Regions from separate parts of the Homo sapiens genome. Here region 2 is linked to region 1. A link means that fine-mapping ties the variant in region 1 to the expression of a gene that starts in the linked region. Tissue or cell type: whole blood. Region 1 holds a variant in brackets; the other region holds the start of a gene. All regions are shown on one strand. Distances are between the middles of the regions.

Evidence for each region. PIP is the estimated chance that this variant, and not a neighbour inherited with it, causes the effect.
Region 2: ZNF274 starts here. The variant in region 1 is fine-mapped to the expression of ZNF274 in whole blood (TOPMed, PIP above 0.99).

What each region holds. Positions count from the first base shown.
Region 1 is chr19:58,204,059-58,206,815 of GRCh38, reverse strand. ZNF274 (zinc finger protein 274) reads right to left here. Exons shown (of 8, transcript NM_133502.3): 5 at 1-96. Among named protein-coding and RNA genes, the nearest start is that of ZNF274, 22 kb to the right of the region's middle. The variant T/C (reference allele first, on the strand shown) is at 1,158.
Region 2 is chr19:58,181,547-58,184,303 of GRCh38, reverse strand. ZNF274 (zinc finger protein 274) reads right to left here and starts at 1,243. Exons shown (of 8, transcript NM_133502.3): 1 at 862-1,243; 2 at 306-383. The coding sequence starts at 338. RefSeq lists enhancers at 391-580, 207-918, 831-1,250, 919-1,632.

The DNA.
Region 1 (2,757 bases):
GGTTCAGTGTGAGGACCTCAACAACCTCAATGTTCATTAGGGGACTCTCAGCAGGAAGAGGATCCAATTTAGGGTCCAGCTGGAGCTCAGGATACTCTGTAAGTCAAAAGCAGAGCAAGACAAATGAGAACAAGCACATGAAAAGATGCTCAACGCCATTATTCACTAGGGAAATGCAAGTCAAAACCACAGTGGAATATGCTTCAAACCCACTAGCATGGCTGTTACCAAAGACAGATGATAACAGGAGAGGATGTGGAAAAACTAGAATGCTCACACACTGTTGGTGGGAACATAAAATGCTGTACCACTCTGCAAAACAGGTTGGTAAATCCTCAGAAGTTAAACACATAGTTATCCATGACCCAGACATTCCCCCCAAGTATATATAGCTAAGAAAATTGAAAGCATATGTCCCCAAAAACTTCTATAAGAATGTTCACCAAAGTGTTATCCATAATAGCCAACAAGTACAAATAACCCATTGTCTATCAACTGAGGGATGTATAAGCAAATTGTGATCTAGTCATATAATGAAATATTGGCAATAAAAAGGAATGAAGTACTACTAATATATGCTACAACACAGGTGAAACTTGAAAACATCATGCTAAGTAAAAGAAGCCAGACACAAAAGGCCACATATTATATGAAATGTCCAGAATATAAAAATCCACAGACAGACAAGTAGATTAGTAATTGTTAGGAAATGGAGAAATTGAGAGGATTGGTGGGAGACTGCTAATGGGTATGCGGTTTCTTTCTTGGGTGAAGAAAATGTTCTGGAATTAGACAGTAGTGACAGCTGTACAACCCTGTGAATATATTTAAAAACACTGAACTGTACACTTTACAAGAGTGAACTTTACAATGTGTGAATTATATCTCCATAGAGCTGTTATAGGGAAAGAACAAAAGGCAATGAGGGTTGAGAAGGGATCTGTGACACTGTACATGTATGCATGGTCACAGGAAAAAGAACCTTCTCCAACCTCCACTGGGGACAAGAACGAGGATATATGGGAAAGGCAGGGGCTCTGGGTCCTGGCACAGAGTCCACAAGAGCACATTGCTAAACTGAACTCCAGGACTGTCCTGAAATGCTGAGGAGGCAGCACAAAACAAGAGGAAACAAGAAAGCTCTCTAAAACTCCCCT[T/C]CAAAATGCTAATTCTAAATAATTTGGCCAGCGGGGTGGCTCACACCTGTGATCCCTGCACTTTGGGAGGCTGAGGCAGGAGATTCGCTTCACGCCAGGAGCTTGAGACCAGCCTGGGCAACATAGTGAGACCCTGTCTCTAAAAAAGTTTAAATTAATCAGGTGTGATGGCATACACCTGTGGTCCTAGCTACTTGGAGGCAGGAGGGCTGCTTGGGCCCAATAATTTGATTTTACAGTTATCTATGATTGCACCACTGCACTCCAGCCTTGGCTACCAAGCCTGATATTGTCCCTAAAAAATAAGGCCTTAAAAACAAATATAAAAGTATAAATAACTACAGATTATGACTTACTTTTGATATTTGTAATATTTAGTGGCAACGACAAGAGCAAACCTGCAATTTCACCCTTGCTGTTGTGAATATAAATGGTCAGCACAATTCTACCAGGAAGTAGCTCAGCATGAACTAGCAAAGCCACAGCAAGGAACCACAGCTACTTTCACGGGATGAATCTACTGGAGCTATTCGGAGATGAAGATAGGTATAGAGGCACCAAAGGAATGAATAAAAACACAACAGCCAAACCAAATATAGTTAACACAGCACTGACCCACAACCTCTGGCAACAAGCACAGCTCAGGACTTAGATGACTGCCAATATACCCTTTTACTGCTCCCCGCCAAGCCAATAGGGTTCTCCACTCAGAACCCTTCCTTATGAATGCACGTCTTCTCACTCCCTACCTGCCTTTGACTCTCTCTACAGAACACAAGGGACCGTGGCTGGCTCCCTACTATACCCGGCTCTGAGTCAACCTCTGGGTGTCCTCATCTGGACGGCCTGGTCTTTATTTCCACAACATACCTGGAATATTCCTGCCCCGCGCGGTGTTAGGACAAAACTGGAAGAACGGGTAGTGTTGTAACACAGTTTAAGAAAATTGTTAAAAACTCCCTTGTAAGCAGTAAAACCTGCACTACTTTTAGCGTGATTATTACAGCGCAGAAAAACGGTCGCAGAGCAGAAAATTACTAGTGTGCAATAGCTGCAGCTACGTTAAAAATAAAAAAGCTCGGGCGGAAGCATCTTTCAGAGCCCGGAAGCCGCCTGCACAGACCCCTCCTCGGCCCTGGTCTCTCACGCACCCGCCGAGTCCGTCATCGCGCACTCAGGAATGCGAGGCCACAACCATAAGCTAACCCTTTCGCCCAGAATAGCACCGTCCACACAAGACCCAGTCTCTCAGCCGACGAAATGGGTCGACGCCTACAACGCCTCTAGGCCACGCCTCGAACCCTGCCCCCCCTGGACCCGGAAAAGCGCCCAGAACTACGACACCCGCGGGGCCTACAGCTCCCAGCAGCCTCCGAGACACGGGCTTCCGGTACCGTTCTCCCTAGTCCCCGCTGACAGGGACACGTCCTGGGCCTACATGGGGCAACGGGGCAGTGCGGCAGGAGTTTCCACGCCTGCCCCACCTGAAGGTATTTCTCCGGACCTCGCGGGCTGGGGTAGACGTTCCGCTGAGGCCACAGCAGACGGCTCCCAACCCCTCCCCTCTCCCGTTCCTCGAGTACAAACCCTGGTCTGTCTG
Region 2 (2,757 bases), 23 kb after region 1:
AACAAAAAACAAACAAACAAAAGACCTGTCAATTACTCTTCCCAATATAAAGGATACAAGCAAGAGCCTTAACCTGGCCTTCAGAAGCCCCTACAATCTGGTCTCTATTCTAACTACACCCTTGGAAAACCAAGCAACCTGCGGTTCCACCATCACGCAGGATCTCTCATGCCCAACCAATCTCTACCCCCTCCCCGAGGTGCTCTGGAGGATGGGGGTATCTCAGGGAAGGTGGTATCTCACCACCATCCGCATCCTCCCAGGTGCAGTAGCGGACTCAAAAGCTGAAGGAAGCCTCTACTCACACAGGACCAGGCCGTCGGAAGCCTGGAGGCCATAGTTTCCTCCTTCTCAATGTGTCTCTGGTGGAAGTGGGCAGAGTCCTGAGGAAACCGAAGTTGGGAGGGGAGGGAGAGGCTTAAGGTGTCCGCTGGGGAGCTACCGCAGCCTCCGCCCAGGAACGGCTCCCTCAGCGGGAAATGACAAGTCCACCCAAACTGGAAAACGCCCAGAGTGAGTCATAGGACTCCCACAGGACTGGATAGGACCAGTTTTCCCCTCCCCGAGAGGACACCGAGCCTCCTCTGTCCCGCGCATCGGAGGGGATCGCCTCCCTGGCCCAGACCCCACGCTTCCGGAGGCGATCTGTTCTCTCCACCGCGGCGCCCCGAAAGCACTGTCTCCCCTCGGGGTTCCGGGTCACCGACCCCATCCCACAGAGCGGCGGGAGGACTGCAGGCACGGCCGGCTCAGGGTACCCGAGCTCGGCGGAAAATGCAGAGGCCGCGCTCGCCCCCAACTAACGGTTCTGGACCCGCCCAGCGCAGCCCCCGACGGACGCAGGTTTCGCGCGGCACTCACCCGGCGCGCGCCGCACAATGGCGCCCGTCGGCCGGCGGCGAAGTGCGTCAGCCCGCCGTCCCGAACTACAACTCCCAGACGCCCCCGCGGCGCGCCAGCTTGCCTCACCCAGCGGCGGCCATCTTGACTGGCCGGTTAGGGGCGGCAGGCGAAGCCGGGGACAGCAGGAGGAGGATACTCGTCGATGTCCCTCGGCGGTCCAGCTAGGCAAGGGGAGGCCTCTGGTGAGGGACGCTAGGCCGCAGGGCCCCACACTAATGTGGGCGGCGACCCGAGCTGGGAGAGAGTCGTGCCCTGCCACGAAGGCGACCACTCTTGGGGCAGAGCAGAAGCTGGAGAAAGGAAAGGCGCTGGACAGGGGTCAGGCCGGAAGTGCTGGAATGGGTGATGCTTGGTTGGGTGGCGGTGGGGGCGGGATTAATTATGACGTCCCTTGGGAAGAGGAAGGGCGGGTAGGGCCGGAAGTGCAGGGGGCGGGCCTAACTGGCCGTCCATCTGGGTGGAGGGGCGGGGACAGGGAGGGCGGGGAGAATGTAGGAGGCGGGGCTAGAGTCCACGCAACTTTTGGGGAAGGAGGGGGACTGGAAGACGGAAGTCGCGGGGGGAGTGGGGAGAGGTACTGAAGTTCCACCAGTTTCAAAGTCGAGAAAGAAGGGGAGGACTGGGAGAGCCGGAAGTGTGCAGGAGTTGGGACTGACGGCACTTATGTTTCTGGGAGATGGGTCCTGCCTGAAAGTGAGGGTGGACAGGGCCAAGTGTCCACTCAAGGTCAGGGAGGGGAGGGAAACTCGGAGGACCGGAAGTGTGATGGGAACGTGGCCAAACGTCCACCCTAGTTCTGGGGATTAGAGGAAGGGAGTAGGAAGGTCAGGGGTGTGCAAGGGGAAGGAGGGAAGACTAGGTGGACCACAAGTGTGATGGGAATGAGGCCAAACGTCTACCCTAGTTCTGGAGAGATGATCAGGGCTAACTGTACCCCAGGCATTGGGGAGGAGGAGCAGGATCCTCTGCCTAGTGTCCCCCTGTGGTCCAGTTTGCTCCTGGAAGCTGAGGTGCTCATGTCTAGGGAGAGGAAACCTAAGTCTGTAGCTGTCCAGGACCTGGTGTGTGCCACCCATCCTTGGGCCCAGGGTGCTCTCATCTTCCTTGGGAGCTCAGGACAAGGAGGTATTCTCTTGGCTTCCTCAAGGACCGACATCTGGTGTTTTCTTATCTTCCTTAGGTCCCAGGTCCCAGTATGGTCTTGTCTTCTTGGGACCTGAGGGCCCTAATGATCTCTCTCAGTGCTCAGGACCCTGTGTCCTCTTTCTTGATATTTCCTGGCAGGTCTCAGCAGCCCTCTGCCTCCCTCTGGTGGTCGTGTACACTGCCTGCTAAACTTGTTCCACGGGTTGTTGGTTTTTTTGGTCACTGTGGAGGATCCAACCTCAGGCTACACATTGTTTAATTGTTGCTGTTAGTGTGTTGATTTTGGCATAGGAGTATTTACTCAGAGACTGTGCAGATATCTTATAGTCTAATAATATTTCATTGGATTTTTCGTGTCTATTATAGATACAACACCATCCCCAATTAATAAGTAATTTGATATCTTCTTTTTCCATATTTCAACTTTAAAAAATTAACATTGTATAGTCCTAGCTAGTATGACAGAGCTATGTTAAGTAGTCATGTTTACTAATAGTCTTGTTTTGTTCTGGATTTGAATAGGATACGTCTAGCCCTTCATAATCACAAGGAAGCAAACCCCCTTGGAAATTCTTTTTTTTCTTTCTTTTTTTTTTTCTTGAGACAGGGTCTTGCTCTGTCACCCCGACTGGAATGCATTGGTGCGATCACAGCTTACTGCAGCCTCCACCTCCTGGGCCCAAGTGATCCGCCCACCTTAGCCTCTCA